2 linked regions of the Homo sapiens genome follow. The protein of the gene in region 1 purifies or fractionates together with the protein of each later gene. This does not show direct contact. Each region holds a gene or a part of one and is shown on either strand. Other genes may lie near its edges.

What was found.
Region 2: the proteins of ZNF365 (region 1) and KIAA1549 purify together in Homo sapiens (affinity purification with mass spectrometry; one large-scale study listed by BioGRID and IntAct). This does not show direct contact.

What each region holds. Positions count from the first base shown.
Region 1 is NC_000010.11:62,372,982-62,377,168, forward strand, and holds the start of ZNF365 (protein ZNF365), read left to right. Parts: upstream 1-1,387; 5' UTR 1,388-1,477; intron 1,478-1,889; exon of another isoform or gene 1,890-2,146; intron 2,147-3,199; 5' UTR 3,200-3,212; coding exon 3,213-3,955; intron 3,956-4,187. UniProt on the Homo sapiens protein: Involved in the regulation of neurogenesis. Negatively regulates neurite outgrowth. Involved in the morphogenesis of basket cells in the somatosensory cortex during embryogenesis.
Region 2 is NC_000007.14:138,915,390-138,918,889, reverse strand, and holds part of KIAA1549 (UPF0606 protein KIAA1549), read left to right. Parts: coding exon 1-2,142; intron 2,143-3,500. UniProt on the Homo sapiens protein: May play a role in photoreceptor function.

The sequences.
Region 1 (4,187 bases):
TGCTTTTTAAATGTGTGTAGGCCCCTTTTTTATGGAATTAATAATAATTATAAATGAAGTAGCAACAACGATAACAGCTGACTTTATCAGTGTGTGTCCCTGTCAGGCAGGGTTTTTACCTCCATCATCATAGCACATTCGATCCACCGCTATATTAAGAGGTAGGTCTTGATTATCTTCATTTCATAGATGAGGAATTGAAGGAACAGAAAAGTCTAGTTACTTGACCCAGGCCCTAGAACCAGGATTTGAATCAAGTCTGATGCCAGAGCTTGGGATCTTCATTGCATTTGATGTGATAATTCATTTGTGAAAAAACAAAGCAATTCATTTGTTTTCATTTGTCAAAAACAAAACAAAATTTCAACTAAGATAACTGTTGAGCTCTTTACCGTTAAAATAAAATCGGGTGTTGAAATGAGTAACAGCAAGCCTTGAGAAAAGACACCCTGAGAAGTCAAGAGGATGCATTAACTGTCTACAGATGAACAGAATCTCTTCTCTTCTTTGAACAAGAAAACCCAGCAGTAACTTTTATCTAGGTTTCACATTTCAGGAGTTACAGTAGGGGTAAACCAAAACAGGTTAAAAAAAAAAAAAAAAAAAAAAAAAAGCAAAAGCCCAGCAAGCTGAGACATCAGAGTCCTTCAGAAGGAATGATTTGCCGTCTTCTCTTCAGGACATCCCCTCTTTAGGAGGACAAATTTTTTCTCCAGGGAAAGGGGCGTCCGCCTCAGAAATGGGGGTGTAGGTGAGGGATCTTGTTGCTTTAACTGTTTGTTCATTAATCCCTGCACTTTACTAGATTTAGTTCTGCCTGTTAACGTAGCCTCAGGACACTTGGCTAGGAAGGCTGGAGTGTACTCTCTGGGTTAGTTATTTTGGGACATTCTCGCCCTGCTGCTTGGGATGAAGAGGTCCTAATTAAATACCCGGACCTTCCAACGGGTAGATTTTCAAAGAAGATGCCCAGCTATGCTGCATCCTCATCCACACTCTCCCGCTCCCCCCAAACTAGTGCAAAAAAGCTTGCCAGGGCCTGCAGAAAGCGCCGCGACTGCGAGGCTGACACGCGTCTTTCCTTCCCTCCCCCGGGGAATGATCCCAGCATCTCTCGCAGTGATGTCAGTGTAATCCTGAGTCGGATCGGGCTCCCGGCTGGGTGGCGGGGGGGCAGATGATGCTCCCGCCAGCTGGGCAGAGCAAGGGTGTTCCCCGCGGAGGTGGCAGCCCTGGGCCGCGGCGTTCCGGAACCCCCGCACCCACGGCGCGGTGCCCCACGGTGCCCGCGAGCGCCGCCCCCGCTGGCTAGCCGCGCCTCGCTCCGCCCTGGACGCCGCCGGTCCCGGCGCGGAGGTGCGGCGGGGAGTGGGAGCCGGCCCGGCTCAGTCTGATTTACGGCTCTGCTGAAAACCGCTTCGCTCCCGCAGCATCAGCACCGGAGGCGGCGGCTGCAGCAGCAGCAGCAACAAGTCGGGTAAGAGGCGGCCGCCGGCCATCTGCGCCCGCGGCTCGGCGGAGGGGACCTGCCGGGGTGGCCGGGGCTGGGGAGGGGGTCCCCGAGCCCGCAGCATGGCGGGGAGTTGGGAGAGCCGGCTTCCCGGCCCCCACCAGCAGGAACTCATGTGCACACGAATCCACTCTGGCACCCGTGGGCTGGCACGCAGCGGAGAGGGGGCGGGGAGAGCTGGGACCCCGGGGCAGGGTCATTGCCAGCCTGCCCTTCTCTGGCAGAGTCACTTAGGGCTCTTCATCAGCCCAGTGGACTGGGTTTCCTCTGGGCCCATAAAAGCCTGCGTGCTCTGGAGTGTGTGATTACCCATTTCCCCATCCAAAATGCCACCCTTTTCCCATTGCCCCCTTAGAATCCTGACTTCCCCTTTCCTTACCTCTTGTCAGCGTCTTTGGCCCTATGCTGAGCCAGGGTTTGCATCTCGTTCCCAGAAAACCAGTGGTTAAACATCCCGGTGTACCCATCACAGGAAGAGGTTCCCCTCTCTGGGGGCCGGGGGCTTCACCTAGAAGCCTTGCCTGCCTCGCTGCCTGGGGACCATTTGCACCTCTGCTTTTGAAGAGGTTGAGGACACTTTTCACCCAAAGACCCCAGCTGGGCTCCCTCATTTCGGGTCCAATGCTTGTTACATTTAAGTAGAAACCTTTCATGGAGGAATAGAAGATATGCACTGCTTGCAGAATTGGGTTGCCAACAGTCATCTGTTGCTAGGGTGAAGATAATGCATTCCTACAAGGAAACCAGAACTTCCTGTTATTAAGAGAGTATGCTGATACCTACCTGGTTCACACACTGACCATCCCTAGAGGTTGTCATATAAAATAGCATCTGAGACAAGACAAATCCGTCCAGAACACTCTATTATAATAAAAATCTTGGCCATGGCCCCACTTATGCCAAATGGTATTTGACACATTGGGTCCCCAGGTTTCAGTGAAACTCACGTATGGGGTCTGTTATTGTTACGATTAGCACTTTGGTTTATGTCATCACAGCAATACCTGAAGGAAAAAAAGGCAAAAATTTCAGGGTGAAAAATTTTCAGCTGATTGCAGGCTTAATGCCACTGTGCATAGCTTGAGTAATCTTTCCTGTACTTGAGGATAGGTCCTGAGCTTGCTGTCTTAGGACCCATTTTGACAATTCATGTGAGTTTTCATATGTTCTTGTGTTCACGCATCTCGGATTGTATCCTTAAAATGGGGCACGGTTTTGCATTTAGTGTGCCAAATTCAGGAGGGGAGGAAACTTGAATTCCACTTCTGGATCTACCACTTTCCATCTGACCTTGGATTAATGGCTTTACTTCCTTGCTTCAGTGTTCTCTTCTGTGGAGAGGGAATGTTACCCACCTTTTTGATTCTAGGTAGGAGTTGGCAAACTTTTTCTGTAAAGGTAGTAAATATTTTAGCTTTTAGGAGCATAGAGTCTCTGTCTCAGTTACTCACCACTGCCATTGTGGTTTACAATAAATAATACAGAAATTGATACGGCAGCAGTAAATAATGCAGAAATTGATGTGGATGGATTTGGCCCATGGGCTGTAGGTTTTAAGTGCAACATAAAATATTATGTGCAAAAGTCACTTGAAACCAAAAAGCCTCTGCTGTCATGGAGATGAGCAGCAATCATTTTAGTAGTGTGTTTTTCAGCCGACTTGTAAACTACCTATTTCCCCCCTCCCAGGACTTTTAGAGTAATGCAACAGAAGGCTTTTGAGGAAAGCAGATATCCCTGGCAGGAGTCCTTTGAGAATGTTGCTGTGTGCCTGCCATTACGCTGCCCGAGGTGTGGAGACCATACCAGATTTAGAAGCTTGTCATCCTTGAGGGCCCATCTGGAGTTCAGTCACAGCTACGAAGAAAGAACCCTCTTGACAAAATGCAGTCTCTTTCCATCCCTCAAAGACACAGACCTAGTCACTTCCTCAGAACTCCTGAAACCGGGAAAATTGCAGAGCAGTGGCAACGTGGTAAAGCAGAAACCGAGCTATGTTAACTTGTACAGCATTTCACATGAACATTCCAAGGACAGGAAGCCATTTGAGGTGGTGGCAGAGAGGCCTGTGTCCTATGTGCAGACCTACACTGCCATGGACCTCCATGCAGACTCGCTGGATGGGACACGGTCGGGTCCTGGACTGCCCACCTCAGACACCAAAGCTTCTTTCGAGGCACATGTCAGAGAAAAATTCAATCGAATGGTTGAGGCTGTGGATAGGACCATTGAGAAGAGAATTGATAAACTCACCAAAGAGTTGGCCCAGAAAACTGCGGAACTGTTGGAAGTTCGGGCAGCTTTTGTGCAGCTGACTCAGAAAAAGCAGGAAGTTCAGAGACGAGAGCGGGCCTTAAACAGACAGGTGGACGTGGCCGTGGAAATGATAGCTGTACTGAGGCAACGCCTGACGGAATCTGAGGAGGAGCTTCTTAGGAAAGAAGAGTAAGTGTTGCTGACAGGGGATGCTAACCCCATTGCTTTAAGCAGCACCCCAATCGCCTTACAAGCAAATGCTAAGCAAGGTTGATTTTTGCTATTTGCAGGTGCCTTGACTGCATTTCTTATTGATATAGTTGAACCAGGAGGAACAAGGCTTTGATATCATTTACCCTCTGTGTGCACGGTCTGCAACCTAGCAGCATTAAAGTCAAATATCTAATTCCTTCTCAACTGG
Region 2 (3,500 bases), on another chromosome or scaffold:
CTGGCAGGAATTTGGTGCTTTATCCTACTGATGCTTACAGTCATTTATCAAGCAGGACTCTGCCAGAGATTGTGGCTTCCCTAACAGAGGGTGTGGAAACCACCCTTTTTTTAAGCTCCCGGTCTTTAATGCCACAGCCGTTAGGCGACGGCATTACTATACCGTTGCCCTCCTTGGGGGAGGTCTCACAGCCTCCAGAGGAGGTTTGGGCCACAAGTGCAGACAGATACACTGATGTGACCACTGTGTTGAGTCAAAGCCTAGAAGAAACCATCTCTCCAAGAACATACCCCACTGTGACTGCATCGCACGCAGCCCTTGCATTCAGCAGGACACATTCTCCATTGCTTTCAACTCCTCTTGCATTTGCGTCCTCTGCTTCACCAACTGATGTTTCATCTAACCCCTTTCTCCCTAGCGACTCCAGCAAAACATCCGAATTGCATAGCAATTCAGCCCTCCCCGGTCCTGTGGACAACACTCATATCCTGAGCCCGGTGTCCTCATTCAGACCATACACTTGGTGTGCGGCCTGCACTGTGCCTTCACCTCAGCAAGTTCTGGCCACGAGCCTCATGGAGAAAGACGTGGGATCAGGGGATGGTGCCGAGACTCTGTGCATGACCGTGCTGGAAGAAAGCAGCATCTCTCTAATGAGTAGCGTCGTAGCAGACTTCTCTGAATTTGAGGAAGATCCTCAAGTATTTAATACGCTTTTCCCCTCCAGACCTATCGTCCCACTTTCTTCTAGATCCATGGAAATCTCAGAGACGAGTGTTGGCATTTCTGCCGAGGTGGATATGAGTAGTGTTACAACCACACAGGTTCCCCCTGCCCACGGCCGCCTCTCTGTGCCGGCGTCACTTGATCCTACTGCTGGCTCCTTGTCTGTTGCTGAAACCCAAGTGACGCCATCCAGCGTGACCACTGCATTTTTCTCGGTCATCACCAGCATTCTCCTTGACTCATCTTTCTCTGTCATAGCAAACAAAAACACACCGTCGCTTGCCGTCAGAGACCCGAGTGTTTTTACGCCTTATAGTCTGGTTCCTTCAGTGGAGTCTTCACTTTTCTCTGACCAAGAACGTTCCAGTTTTTCTGAGCATAAACCCAGAGGTGCTTTGGATTTTGCATCCAGCTTTTTCTCAACACCCCCGCTGGAACTCAGCGGCTCCATCTCTTCGCCTTCGGAAGCACCTGCGTCTCTGTCTCTGATGCCGAGTGACTTGTCCCCCTTCACATCTCAGTCTTTTTCTCCCTTGGTTGAGACATTTACATTGTTTGACTCTAGTGATCTGCAGTCATCTCAGCTGTCTCTTCCCAGTTCCACAAATCTTGAGTTTTCGCAGCTCCAGCCAAGTTCCGAGCTGCCTTTAAACACCATCATGTTGCTACCTAGCCGTTCTGAGGTGTCACCATGGTCAAGCTTCCCTTCTGATTCTCTCGAGTTTGTTGAAGCGTCTACGGTTTCACTGACGGATTCAGAAGCTCATTTTACCTCAGCTTTCATTGAAACTACCTCCTATCTTGAGTCTTCACTCATTTCCCATGAATCCGCAGTCACTGCACTGGTGCCCCCCGGCTCTGAGTCTTTTGACATTTTGACTGCCGGGATTCAAGCAACATCACCATTGACCACTGTCCACACAACGCCCATTTTAACTGAGTCTTCTTTGTTCTCAACTCTGACACCTCCTGACGACCAAATCAGTGCTCTAGACGGTCACGTGTCTGTCCTGGCCTCTTTCTCCAAAGCCATTCCCACTGGTACGGTGTTGATCACTGACGCGTACCTGCCATCAGGATCCTCGTTTGTTTCTGAAGCAACCCCCTTCCCTCTGCCCACAGAGCTGACCGTCGTGGGCCCATCACTCACACCCACAGAGGTGCCACTGAACACCTCCACGGAAGTGAGCACAACCAGCACCGGTGCTGCCACTGGTGGTCCCCTCGACTCCACCCTGATGGGTGACGCCGCAAGTCAGAGCCCCCCAGAGAGTAGTGCTGCTCCTCCCCTGCCATCCCTGCGTCCCGTGACTGCCTTCACTCTCGAAGCAACAGTCGACACACCAACACTGGCTACTGCCAAGCCGCCATATGTTTGTGATATCACAGTCCCCGATGCCTATCTGATCACAACTGGTAAGGCCCAGCTTCCTGCCGCCTCTCTGGGGTGGGCAATCTTTCTAAGGAGCTTGTGTGCAGTGCCTGTGAGGCTTGGAGCTTCATGGTTAAGAGCAGAGGCGCTGGGCTCAGTTAACTCCCAGGTAGTACTCCTATGCTTACCTCCTGCGAGTTCTCAGAACAGTTATTTATCCTCTCTAATCGTCTGCTGCCTCACCCATTAAACAAGGAGCTTAGTTAAACCTGCTTCATTGGGCTGTTGTTCAGATGTAAATGCGTTAGTCCCTGCAGAACGCTCAGCCCTTGCCTAGTACATCAGAGGCATGCACGGGATGGTGCATATTAGTCAGCAGTCACAAGGAGAATAAATATTAGAACAAATACAAGAACTAAACAAGCCTTGGAAGTTCTTGGTAGGATCTTTGTCCTACCATAACCCAGTAGGTGCATGGATGACATAGTTTAAACAAAATACTTTTTTGTTTAATTCAAGCAATGAGTTGGGCAACTATGTAAGGGCAACCCTTGCAATTTCTTACTCATTTACTCTTCTTACTTTTCCTTGAAAGGAGACTGCACTTTGCTCTCATAGGTCCCTGTAAATGCCCCTTGGGTCCCGAGGAAAGAAAAGTAAAGTGACTCTTTGCTCTTATAGGTCCCTGTAAATGCTCCTTGGGTCCCGAGGAAAGAAAAGTAGTGACTAAATATCCTCTGAATCCAGTATCAGCCTTTGGTCTCCTCCCCACCACAGCCTGGGTTGCTAGCAGACTGGCCAGCAGCTTCCCTTGCAGTTGCATGGCTGCTGTGGCCGCGTGAAGCTGGTGCCCACCTGAGGGCATGCCTGAGAGGTAGACTGATTTCAAGGGTCATGTCCCGCGACGGTGGCCCGCTTGGTCAGGGTCTCTGCATTTTTCCTCATGAGACATGACAGGTGTATGTGGTCTCGAGGGTCATGACTGTGTGCTGAACCACAGCCTGGTGGTGACGAGCAGCCTGTCCTCTGTTTTGATTTTGGTAGGAGTGGAGGACAGAAATGAAAAAGGGGACGAAAACGGCAGAAGAGGTAGGGAGGAGTGGGGTGGAGTGGACCGGGAAGGAGAGGAGCAGAGAATGTGGAAGGGGGAGAAGGAGGAGAACACGCTGGGTCTTTTCCTCTCTGTGGTCGGGGTTGCTGGGAGCCTCTGCTCACTGTGACAGTGCCACATCCCTCTGGGCAGGTGGGAGCGAGGATCCTGATGGCAGGTACACGTCAGTGATCAACACCCTACCTGTGGGAATGGCTTTGGAGAATGAGTCCAGGACAGCCTTTGCTCCCCACACGCCAAAGGGAAACATTCGTTATTCCACATGGCAAGTAATGATTGAGCACCTAGTAT